3 separate regions of the Homo sapiens genome follow, and regions 2 and 3 are each linked to region 1. Evidence: fine-mapped expression QTL. A gene starts in region 1. Each other region holds a variant in brackets. All regions are shown on one strand. Distances are between the middles of the regions.

Region 1 (4,197 bases):
ACCTGGCTGATTAAAGAAAATTTTTTTTGGCCAGGCATGTTGGCTCATGCCTGTAATCCCAGCACTTGGGGAGGCCAAGGCAGGTGGATCACCTGAGGTCAGGAGTTTGAGACCAGCCTGGCCAACATGGTGAAATCTCGTCTCTACTAAAAATACAAAAAATTAGCTGGAGGTGGTGGGCGCCTGTAATCCCAGCTACTCAGGAGGCTGAGGCAGGAGATTCTCTTGAACCCGGAAGGCAGAGGTTGCAGTGAGCTGAGATGGCACCACTGCACTCCAGCCTGGGCAACAAGAGCAAAACTCTGTCTCAAAAAAAAAAAAAAATTTTTTTTTTTTTGGTAGAGACAGGTTCTCAGTATGTTGCCCAGGCTGGTCTCCAACTCCTGGGCTCAAGCAATCCTTGGATGAGAACCTTGGCCTCCTAAAGTGCTGGGCTTACAGGCAGGAGCCACTGTGCCCAGCCAGAGATTTACTATTAATATTTGGGTATTTGGGAAGAAAACACAGTCCTCTCTACCCCAGCTATCTCTGACTGGGGTTACATCAGCCTTGAGTCAGCCTCTGGGTGGGGGGGCAATTTTGGGGGTGCGCTCTGTCCCTTACCTTGCCAGCTCCCCAGAACCTCTCCTCTTTGGTCACCCATCGTCAGGGTTGGAAGTGAGGCCCCCTCCCAAATAGAGTGATGTGTAGTATATAATGAGCAGCCAAAGTTGGGGTTGGGTGGGAAATGGGAGACCCTTAGGAGGAGGAGTGCCGGCATCCGGTGTACCAGGACCTTAGATGCCCTGTCCCAGGCAGTCGCGTGACATTTGGGGAGGGAGGGAGAAGGGACGGGAATTTGAACTTTCCACACGGGTCCGACGCCCTGGCCGATCGGGTTGCAACATGACCTGGGCCAGGGGCCAGAGCTTGTGGGCCAAGGTTACTCCGCCTCCAGCCAATGGGGTCGCAGCTGGGCGGCTGCGGTTGGGGGCAGGCAACACTCCCCTCACAGTCCCCACCCCAGCTCCTGCTCCCCCGCAGGGCGGCAGGTGCCGATCTGTAGCCAGCGGTTCTCAGAAGGGGAGGAGGCGCCGCGGAGGAAGAGGAATATTTGCACAGAGAAAAGATCAAGGCCGGCCGATCCCCCTTTCTCCCCTACGGGTTTTCGGTTGATAATTTATACTGGCCCCTCAACTCCGGGGAACTTTGCTCCAGGGCACTGGGCCAGGCCTCGGGTTCGCGCCCTCCTCTGGGACGCGGGGCGTGGAGCGGCAGCGGGGCGCGGCCTGTGCGCTCTCGGTGGCACTAAGCGGGGGTCCCAGGCAGCGACGGGCGCTCAGCCTAGTGTGGCGACGTGGGTAGGCGAACCCAGGCCTCCCGGGCACCGGCGTAACCTCTGCGAGCTGCGCCTCTTGGACATTTCTGGGACATCCTCCTCCCGCCACCCTTAATGTAGCAGATCAAGAAGAGGTGTCTCAGCAATTGCGGGGAGGTGGACGTGAGAGTGGGCCAGTTCCAGTCCACTTTGGTTATGAACTGGGACAATCAGGGGCGCTGGGAGTATCTCAGGGTCCAGGAATAGGGCGGGCTTGGGCCGGGGCTGCTGGGGAGAAGGCCGAGGCCTGCAGGGGGTCGGGTGGAGTGGCTCCAGAGTGGAGAGTGGGGATGGGCGCGGGTGGCCTAGGGACCAGGGGCGCCTGGCATTTTTGTAGGGACGGAGGGGCTGGGACCAGAGAGAGGGGACCAGAGGTCCAGGTAGAGGTGGGGCGCAGGCGGTCTGCGCTTCGGGGAAGAGGGAATGGGGGAGGAATGGGAATCAGAAATGCGTGGGTCCGTCAGGGGCCAGCGGGCTGGGCCGCTGTAGGAGGACCTCGGGGCTGGGAGAAAGGGGGTGTCCAGGGCGTGATCGGAGCCTCCGGGAGCCGCAGGACCGGGCTCGGGTGGGGTGTTGAGGGCCCCAGCGCGCAGTCCTGCCCCGGACCCCCCCCCCATCCCCACCTGGAAGCCAAGGCCGTCAGGGCCCGGAACCGCCCTCACCTGTAGGCCAGGCTCAAGCACTCGAAGAGGCGTGTGAGTGTGGGGTCGATACTGCGCGGCCCGAAGTCGGAGGGCCCCACGGACCCCTCCTGGTCGCGCCGCCGGGGCAGCGAGTCGCTGTGCGGCGACGACACCATGAAGTGACCGCTGTGGATGACCTGCGAGCGGAGCAAGCCGCCCGCGCTGCGCCGGAGACTCGGGTCCTCCGAGTCTGTGTCCGAGTCCGAGTCTGGGCTGGGCGCGACCCGCGGGACCTGCAAGCCCGCGGCCAGACCTGCCAGCGCGCCGGCCATGGCTGTCGCCGCCGCAACCGCCTGGTCCCTGCTCCGCGCAGCGCGGGGAACAGCTCTTGGCCAGCCGGGCCTCATTAACATAGCCCCGCCCCCACACCATAGGCCGATCGGGTGGGCGGGGCCTGGGACGGGGCGGGGCTTGTATTAGCATAATCCTTACGCCAGGTGAGAACCCGGTGCTCTGGAGCTCTGGCGGGTTGGCCCCATCTCCCTTCCCGTCTTTCCTTGGAGTCCTGATAGAGCCGCCCCTACTTTGCTCCAAAGGGATATTAAGAAAGGTCAGGCCGGACGCCAGGGGCTCTTGCCTGTAATCCTAGCACTTTAGGAGGCCAAGGCGGGAGGATGGCTTGAGGTCAGGAGTTCGAGACCAGCCTGAGCAATATGGCAAGACCCCCATCTCTACCAAAAAAATGCAAAAATTAGCCGGACATAGTGGAGAAAGCCTGTAATACCAGCTACTGGGGAGGCTGAGGTGGGAGGATTCCTTGAGCCCAGGAGTTCGACAATATGGCAAAACCCTGTCTCTACCAAACATACAAAAATTATCCAGGCATGGTGGCGTGTGCATGTAGTCCTAGCTACTCCGAAGGCTGAAGTGGGAGAATCGCTTGAGACCAAGAGGTTGAGGCTGCAGTGAGCGGAGATCGCGCCACTGCACTCCAGCCTGGATGACAGAGTGAGACCCTGTCTCCACAACAAAAGGGTCCCCTATCACACCTGAGCCTGAAAGCGCCTCAGGACCTGGGGTTTGTTCTTTCAGGGGCACCCTCCTGTGAGGCCAGAGATCACCATCTCCCCTCACCTAACTCCTGCCCTTCACCTCCAACCCCCGCCCCCCATATTAGCTCTTCTGGGTCCTCCACATAGGTAGAAGCCCCCAACTCTCAGGGGCCTGATGTGGTAAGCCCAAGGTAATGCCCCTGAAGGGCCTGGCCCACAGGAGGTTGCTAACACCTCTAGTTAACATGGTGGCCAACACGGTGGCCGGGCGCGGTGGCTCTCGCCTTCAATCCTAGCACTTTGGGAGGCCATGGTGGGTGGGTCACTTGAGGCCAGGAGTTCGAAACCAGCCTGGCTAACATGGAGAAACCCCTTCTCTACTAAAAATACAAAAATTACCGGATGTGACGATGCGTGCTTGGCTTATAATCCCAGCTACTCGGGAGGCTGAGGTGGAAGAATCACATGAGCCCAAGAGGTGGAGGTTGCAGTGAGCCGAGATCGCGCCCTACTGCACTCCACCCTGGGCAACAGTGAAATCCTGTTTCAAAAACAAAATAAAATACTTAAGAAAAAATATATATTAAAAAAATTGTGATCATTACTTCACCTGCACAGAGAGGCCCAAGGGGAGCCTCGAGGGACTGTTACTGGTAGGGATGGGTGGCTCACTGGAAGGTGGACATCCCCTAGGCAGGCATCTACCCAGGAGCTCTGAGCCCCTTCTCTCACTGACACTGAGGTCCAGCTTTTGTTCCTGCTTCTTTGTATTTTTATTTATCTATATACTTCTATTTATTTATTGTTTTGAGACGGAGGCTCACTCTGTCACCCAGGCTGGAGTGCAATGGCACGATCTCGGCTCACTGCAACCTCTGCCTCCCTGGTTCAAGCGATTCTCCTGCCTTAGCCTCCTGAGTAGCCGGGATTACAAGTGCCCGCCACCATGCCCAGCTAATTTTTGTATTTTTAGTAGAGACGAGGTTTCTCCATGCTGGCCAGGCTGGTCTCAAACTCCTGACCTTAAAGCGATTTGCCCACCTCAGCCTCTCAAAGTGCTGGGATTCCAGGCATGCGCCACCGTGCCCAGCCTATTTATATATTTTTAGAGACAGGGTCTCGCTCTGTCACCCAGGCTGGAGTGCAGAGGCACGGTCATAGCTCA
Region 2 (4,197 bases), 120 kb before region 1:
AATTTCGCTACATAACGGCTGAAAGCACTCATAACTAGTATGTATCAACCTCAACATGTCATTTAAATGTACAAGGCTACCTACCACTTCAAGATTTCCGTGCAAATTCTGCAAGACATTATGTAAAGCAATTAGCCCAGTGTCAAGTACATACAGATAGATATTTAACAACTGTTTAGTTTTTTCTCCTGAATCTTACTTTCAGCTGTTACAAGATTATACAGGGATTGCTTTAGTGTTCGGTATCACTTTTGTAATAGTTATCCTTTAGCTATTTTGACTGGATAATTAAAAAACAAATAAGGCCGGGCGCACTGGCTCATGCCTGTAATCCCAGCACTCTGGGAGGCCGAGACAGGTGGATCACAAGGTCTGGAGATTGAGACCATCCTGGCTAACACAGTGAAACCCCGTCTCTATTAAAAATACAAAAAAATTAGCCGGGGGTGGTGGTGGGCACCTGTAGTCCCAGCTACTCGGGAGGCTGAGGCAGGAGAATGGCGTGAACCCAGGAGGCGAATCTTGCAGTGAGCTGAGATCATGCCACTGCACTCCAGCCTAGGCAACAGAGCGAGACTCCATCTTAAAAAAAAAAAAAAATTTAAGTAGAAAAAGTCCAACTCTCATTACAGCGAGGACTTGGATTAAACATGTCTGAGGCCGGGCGCAGTGACTCACGCCTGTAATCCCAACTCTGGGAGGCTGAAGTAGGCATATCACCCGAGGTCGAGAGTTCAAGACCAGCCTGACCAACATGGAGAGAACCCGTCTCTACCAAAAATAAAAAATTAGCAGGGCATGGTGGCAGGCGCCTGTAGTCCCAGCTACTCGGGAGGCTGAGGCAGGAGAATCACTTGAACCAGGGAGGCGGAGGTTGCAGTGAGCCGAGATCACGCCATTGCACTCCAGCCTAGGCGACAAGAGCGAGACTCCACCTCAAAGAAAAAAAAAAAAAAAGTCTTAAAGTCTTTTTTTTTTTTTTTGAGATGGAGTCTTGCTCTGTCCCCCAGGCTGGAGTGCAGTGGCACGATCTCGGCTCACTGCAACCTCCGCCTCCCAGATTCACGCCATTCTCCTGCCTCAGCCTCCCGAGTAGCTGGGACTACAGGCGCCCGCCACCACGGCCGGCTAATTTTTTATATTTTTAGTAGAGATGGGGTTTCACCGTGTTAGCCAGGATGGTCTCGATCTCCTGAACTCGTGATCCACCTGCCTCAGCCTCCCAGAGTGCTGGGATTACAGGTGTGAGCTACCACGCCCGGCCTGCAAGTCTTTTCAACATAGTAACAATTATGTGCTCACTTTGTCAGCACATATAATGAAACTGGAATAATATGGAGAAGATTAGCATGGTCATTGCATGGGTTGGGCACAGTGGTTCATGCCTGTAATCCCAGCACTTTGGAAGGCCAAGAGAATAGTTTAGGAGTTAGAGACCAGCTGGGGCAACATGGTGAAATCCCATCTCTACAAAACATACAAAAAATTAGTCAGGCATGGTGGCGCACACCTGTGGTCCCAGCTACATGGAGGGTGACATGAGAGGATCGCTTGAGCCCAGGAGGTAGAGGTTGCAATGAGCCAAGATCGCGAAACTGCACTATTCCAGCATGGATGACAGACTAAGACCCTGTCTCCGAAAAATAAAAAAAGAAAAGAAAAATCAAAACCAAAAAGACAAAATAACAGAATTATCAAAAAAGGATGAAAAAGACAAAGGACAGACCAGTACAACAAAGTGTTGCAATTATTACAATACTAAAACATTCTCAGTGATGAATGTGGTTCTAAAATTTGGTTCAAGGCCAAGAGTGATGGCACATGCCTGCAGTCCCAGCTACTCAGAAGGCTGAGGTGGGCGGACGGCTTAAGCCAGGGAGTCCAAGGCTACATACAGTGAGCTATGACTGCACCACTGCACTCTAGACTCTGTGACAGAACAAAACCCTGTCTCTAAACAAATAAATAAAAATAAAATTTAGTCCTTAT[A/G]ATAATTGATGGGAGGCCAAGGTGGGTGGATCATCTGAAGTCAGGAGTTTGAGACCAGCCTGGCCAAAATGGTGAAACCCTGTCTCTACCAAAAATACAAAAAACTAGCCGGGCGTGGTGGTGCACACCTGTAGTCCCAGCTACTCAGAAGGCTGAGGTGGGAGAATCACTTGAACACGGGAGAATGAGGTTGCAGTGAGCCAAGATTGCGCACTGCACTCCAGCCTTGGCGACAGAGTGAGACTCCATCTCAAAAAAACAAAACCAAGAAAACACACAAGTATTAACGTAAAGTATTAATACTTAACATTAAATATAATACTAAATATAACACAGTTTTACACACATAGAAATGTGTTCTGTAACCTACGATGACAGCTCTAATTCTGATGGTAAGTCAAATCAGAAACGAACAGGCACTCACCTCGAAGTCACACTCTTCTCCCACAGCATATTTGGTCATGATCTCCAACCAAGCAGTATCTACTAACTTCTCTAAGGAGGCTGTGTTATGGTGAACCATTTCCAGAACAAGCTTCTCATACCAGGCAGGAAACTCCTCCTTCAAACTAAATAAATGTAATTAGTTATCAAGAAAACACAGAAACACCTACCCAGAGATTTAATTCAAGTCAATTCAAACATTTCTTTCTTTCTTTTCCAAACATTTCAAACATTTATCGCTCTGTCACCAAGGCTGGAGTGCAGTGGCACAATCATAGCTCACTAGCCTCCACCTCCTGGGCTCGAACAATCCTCCTACCTCTCAGGTAGCTGGGACCACAGGCATGCACCACTGCACCTAACCTCTTTTAAGACTTAACTTTTGGGCAGGGCGCGGTGGCTCACGCCTGTATTCCCAGCACTTTGGGAGGCCGAGGCGGGTGGATCACGAGGTCAGGAGATCAAGACCATCCTGGCTAACACGATGAAACCCCATCTCTACTAAAAATATAAAAAATTAGCCGGCCATGGTGGCTGGTGCCTATCGTCCCAGCTACTTGGGAGGCTGAGGCAGGAGAATGGCATGAACCCAGGAAGCGGAGCTTACAGTGAGCCGAGATCGCACCACTGCACTCCAGCCTGGGCGACAGAGCGAGATTCCATCTCAAAAAAAAAAAAAAAGACTTAACTTTTGGCTGGGCGTGGTGGCTCACACCTGTAATCCTAGCACTTTGGGAGGCCAAGGCGGGCAGATCACCTGAGGTCAGGAGTTCAAGGCCAGCCTGGCCAACATGGCGAAACCCTGTCTCTACTCAAAATACAAGAATTAGCCGGGCGTGGTGGCACATGCCTGTAATCCCAGCTACTCGGGAGGCTGAGGCAGGAGAATCACTTGAACACGGGAAGCGAAGGTTGCAGTGAGCCAAGATCACACCATTGCACTCCAGCCTGGGCAACAGAGAGAGACTCAGTCTCAAAAAACAAACAAACAAAAAAAAACACTTAACATTTTACGAGTTTTAGGTTCACAGCAAAACAACACTGCTTTAGCAAATATACGTAAAGCACTGGGGAATACAAAGATTAAAAAAAAACATGCAGTTTGCTGGACACAGTGGGTCCCAGCACTTTGAAAGGCACAGGTGGGAGGATTGCTTGAGCCCAGGAGTTTGAGACCAGCCTGGCCAACAGAGTGAGAACCTGCCTCTATAAAAAACTAAAATAATTAGCTGGGTGAGGTGGCATGCACCTATAGTTCCAGCTACGTAAGAGGCTGAGGCAAGAGGCTGGCTTGATCCCAGGAGCTATGTGCATACCACTGCACTCCACCCTGGGCAACAGAGCGAAACTGTGCCTCTTAAAAAAAAGGAAACCAGGAAGCGTTAACATGTTGGAAACGTGACTTGAACACCAGAGCTGTTGCAAAAGGACAGCAATGATTTAACACTTTTCACTTATTAAACTAGCAAAAAAAAAAAAAAATTTAATTATCATACCCGGTTGGGTGCAGTGGTTCACGCCTGTAATCCCAGCACTTTGGGAGGCCGAAATGAGCAGGTCGCTTGAGGTCAGGAGTTCGAGACCAGCCTGGCTAACATGGTGAAACCCCATCTCTACTAAAAACACAAAAATTAGCCAGGCGTGGTGGTGAGCGCCTGTAGACCCAGCTACTCAGGAGGCTGAGGCACGAGAATCACTTGAACCCAGGAGATAGAGGTTACAGTGGGCCGAAATCGTGCCCCTGCATTCCAGCCTGGGCAACAG
Region 3 (4,197 bases), 99 kb after region 1:
GGAGTGCAGTAGCACGATCTTGGCTCACTGCAACCTCCACCTCCCGAGTTCAAGCAATTCTCCTGCCTCAGCCTCCCAAGTAGCTTGAGATTACAGGCACCCACAACCACGCCTGGCTAATTTTTTTGTATTTTTAGTAGAGAAGGGGTTTCACCATGTTGTCCAGGCTGGTTTCGAACTCCTGACCTCAAGTGATCTGCCTGCCTCAGCCTCCCAAAGTGCTGGGATTACAGGTGTGAGCCACTGCACCCAGCCAGGAACTACTCTATCTTTGGGAAAGAGATTTGAGTTATGGCCCCCCTCTCCTCCTTTCCCTGCATCCCCAATCCTGAACTCTGGCTCTAGGCCTGAGGTTCTATTTTCTCTTTTTTCGTTTTTGTAAAGACGGGGTCTCCTCATGTTGCCCAGGCTGGTCTCAAAGTCCTAGCCTCAAGCGATCCTCCTGGCTTGGGCTTCCAAAGCACTGGGATTACACTTGGCCAATGTAGGTTCTATTTTCTATCTAGAAGCCTGGGGCCTGGCTTCCTCTAGGACTCATGGGAAAACCTGTGGAGGAGTGGGAGTGGGGAGGCCAGTCAACAGCAGATGTTCTTTTGAAGGTCCCTGCCAGCATCTTGTTGCAACAGTGGTCTCGCACACACCCCCATAAGCCCGCTGTGCCCTCCACCACCCCCAGCTGTCACTTCTGTGGCCCACACCCTCTTGACCTGAAGCCAAGCACATCCCTTCCCTTCCCCAGGACTGCCAAAGCATTGGAGCTCTGGAGCCAATCCAGCCCCCTGCTGCCCAGTGTGTCTGGGCCTGGCACCTCTCCCAGACTATGGGCACAGGTTAGCTGGCTGCCAGGCAAGCTAGGGACACTGTTCCAGCTTTCCCTTCTTCCCTGGAAAATCTGGCCCAAGACGGTCCGATGTGGCCTGGCAGAGGGAACAGCCACACCCTGTTCCAGTTGTCCCGGCTTCAACTTTGGGTGCCCTGCAGAATGGGCATTGATGGCGCCCCACTTCACAGAGGAAAAGTAAGGAGGTAAGTGCTAGAGGAACTTGCCCAGAGATGACAAGTGACAGGGGAGTCTGCCTGACTCCTGGTCTAGCCTGCAGGGTGAGTCAGTGGGGTGGGTCACAGGTATGCCCCCAGAGCCCAGTGTCTGGCCCCTTAGGGAGAGGGCAGGAAAGGGAGGCTCAGCTCCTGCCCTCTGAGAGCCCTGGTGTCACACCAAGCATCACTCATTGAGACGCATATTAAATAGTAGCATGAAAAATGAATAAAGAAATAAATGTGGCCAGGCACAGTGGCTCATGCCTGTAATCCAGCACTTTGGGAGGCCCAGGAGGGAGGATTGCTTGAGGCCAGGAGTTTAAGACCAGCCTGGACTCCATCTCTTAAAAAAAAAAAAAAAGTGTGCCTTTCACTTCTTTTTTTTGTTTGTTTGTTTTTTTAAGGCTGAGTCTCTTTCTGTCACCCAGGCTGCAGTGCAGTGGTGCAATCCAGGCTCACTACAACCTCCACCTCCCATGTTCAAGTGATTTTCCTGCCTCAGCTTCTTGAGCAGCTGGGATTACAGGCACCCGCCACCACGCCCAGCTAATTTTTGTATTTGTAGTAGAGATGGGGCGTCACCATGTTGGCCAGGCTGGTCTTGAACTCCTGACCTCAAATGATCTACCCGCCTTGGCCTCCCAAAGTGCTGGGATTACAGGTGTGAGGCACTGCACCCGGGCTTGCCCTTCTCTTTAAACTCTGTTTTTCTGCTAAGTCTTTTCCTCATTTAATCATTCATTCATTCATCAAACATTAAATGGGAAACCATGCTCTGGGGCCACTGTTCTGCACTCAAGATGTTCCCACTGCAGTGGGGGAGACAGACATGGTTTTGGTAGGTGAGGGAACCAGGGTGGCTTCCCAGAGGTGGTGACATTCGAACAGGGTGTTGCAGTGGGATTGCAGCAGGGAGTGGACAAAGGAAGGATGCTGGGGCAGGGGTGGGGGTGGGGAGCTCTCTAAAATGGAGCACTCTACCGGGAGCACCTCAGGAGCCTGCTGTGGCACTTGGGTGGACATAGGTGGGGGATGAGCCCAAGGAAGGGGGAGGCCTTGGATGCTAAACTATTGTGCAGAAAAGGGAAGCCCATCGAGGGCCAGATTATCATTCCTTTATTTATTTAGAGACCGAGTTTCACTCTTGTCATCCAGGCTGGAGTAAAATGGCACAATCTTGGCTCACTGCAACTTC[C/T]GCCTCCCGGGTTCAAGCAATTCTCCTGCCTCAGCCTCCCAGATAGCTGAGATTACAGGCATGTGCCACCACACCTGGCTAATTTTTTGTATTTTTAGTAGAGATGGAGTTTCTCCACCTTGGCCAGGCTGGTCTCGAATTCCTAACCTCAGGTGATCCACCCACCTCGGCCTCCCAAATTTCTGGGATTGCAGGCATGAGCTACCATACCCAGGCTTCATTCCTTCATTTAAAAAGTATTGGCCGGGCATGGTGGCTTATGCCTGTAATCCCAGCACTTTGGGAGGCTGAGGTGGGCGGATCACGAGGTCAGGAGATCGAGACCATCCTGGCTAACATGGTGAAACCCTGTCTCTACCAAAAATACAAAAAAAAAAAAAAAAAAAAAATTAGCCGGGCATGGTGGTGGGCGCCTGTAGTCCCAGATACTTGGGAGGCGGAGGCAGGAGAATGGCGTGAACCTGCGAGGCAGAGCTTGCAGTGAGCAGAGATCGCACCACTGCACTCCAGCCTGGGCGAAAGAGCGAGATTCCGTCTCAAAAAAAAAAAAGTATTTATTAGGCTGAGTGTGGTGGTGGCTCACACCAGTAATCCCAGCACTTTGGGAGGCCGAGGCAGGAGGATCGCTTGAGGCCAGAAGTTCAAGATCAACCTGGGCAACACACGGAGACCCTGTCTCCAAAGAAAAATATTTTTCTAAAAATTAGCTGAGCATCGTGGTGCACACCTGTACTCCCAGCTACTTAGGAGGCTGAGGTGGGAGGACTGCTTGAGCCCAGGAGTTTGAGCCTTCAGTGAGCCATGATTGTGCCACTCTACTCCAGCCTGGGCAACAGAGTGAGACCCTGTCCAAAAATATATACAAATAAAAAAGTATTTATTGAGCATCTACTATGTGCCCGCTATTCTAGATGTTGGGAATATGGCAGAAAAAAAGATGGACAAGCCCTTGCCCCCATGCAGTCTGTGGTCTAGTAAAGATGCCAAACACACAAATAAATAACATATATAATGGTGATGATATGCTACAAGGAAAGACGGGGTAGGAACTACTTACTGGGTTTGAGTGAGGAATTCCAGTTTTACTGGTACAGTTCAAGTTTTTTTTTCTTCTTCTTTTTTTTCTTTTTTCTTCTTTTTTTTTTTTTTTGAGACAGAGTTTTGCTCTTGTTGCCCAGGCTGGAGTGCAATGGCACGATCTCAGCTCACTGCAACCTCCGCCTCCAGGGTTCAAGCGATTCTCCTGCCTCAGCCTCCCTAGTAGCTGGGATTATAGGCATATGCCACCATGCCCGGCTGATTTTTTATTTTTAGTAGAGATGGGGTTTCTCCATGTTGGTCAGGCTGGTCTCGAATTCCCGACCTCAGGTGATCCGCCCGCCTCGGCCTCCCGAAGTGCTGGAATGAGCCACTGCGCCCGGCCTTTTTCTTCTTTTTTTTTTTTTAAAAGACAGGGTCTTGCTATGTTGCCCAGCCTGGAGTGCAGTGGCATGATCATGGCTCACTGCAGCCTGAAACTCCTGGGCTCAAGTGATCCTCTTGCCTCAGCCTCCCAAGTAGCTGGGACTACAGGTGCACACTAACACACCTGGCTAATTTTTGTTATTTTTTGCAGAGACAGGGTCTTGATATGTTCCCAGGCTGGTCTTGAATGCCTGGGCTCAAGTGATCCGTCTGCCTTAGCCCCCTGAGTAGTTGAGACTCCAGGCAAGCGCCGCTGCGCCCAGCTTCAATTCTAGATGATTTGGTCAGGGAGGTCCTTGATGAGAAGGTGGTATTTGAGTATATCTCTGAAGGAGGTGAGGGAGTGAGCCATGTAGGTATCTGGGGAAAAGCATTCTGGGTAGAGGGAACAGCAAGTGCAACAACCATGAGGAGGGAGCCTGCCTGGTGTGAATGACAAAACAGCAAGGAGGCGAGGAGGCCTGGAGTAGAGGAGGTAAGAGAATGCGCTCGAAGGAAGT

Alleles and levels. Alleles are on the strand shown, and positions count from the first base shown. SD is a standard deviation of normalised expression in the study named. Not every link is listed here.
For the expression in atrial appendage of the gene that starts at base 2,342 in region 1, A is the low allele of the variant in region 2 and G is the other (moderate effect, 0.57 SD a copy in GTEx).

Evidence for each region. PIP is the estimated chance that this variant, and not a neighbour inherited with it, causes the effect.
Region 2: its variant is the best candidate, but not a certain one, in a credible set for the expression of MLXIPL in atrial appendage (GTEx, PIP 0.78).
Region 3: its variant is the best candidate, but not a certain one, in a credible set for the expression of MLXIPL in transverse colon (GTEx, PIP 0.64).

What each region holds. Positions count from the first base shown.
Region 1 is chr7:73,622,181-73,626,377 of GRCh38, forward strand. It overlaps MLXIPL (MLX interacting protein like), which reads right to left and starts at 2,342. Exons shown (of 17, transcript NM_032951.3): 1 at 2,020-2,342. The coding sequence starts at 2,312.
Region 2 is chr7:73,505,914-73,510,110 of GRCh38, forward strand. BAZ1B (bromodomain adjacent to zinc finger domain 1B) reads right to left here. Exons shown (of 20, transcript NM_032408.4): 3 at 2,414-2,558. It also overlaps the pseudogene RNU6-1198P. Among named protein-coding and RNA genes, the nearest start is that of BAZ1B, 14 kb to the right of the region's middle. The variant A/G (reference allele first, on the strand shown) is at 1,990.
Region 3 is chr7:73,720,909-73,725,105 of GRCh38, forward strand. No RefSeq gene overlaps it. Among named protein-coding and RNA genes, the nearest start is that of STX1A, 3.3 kb to the left of the region's middle. The variant C/T (reference allele first, on the strand shown) is at 2,234.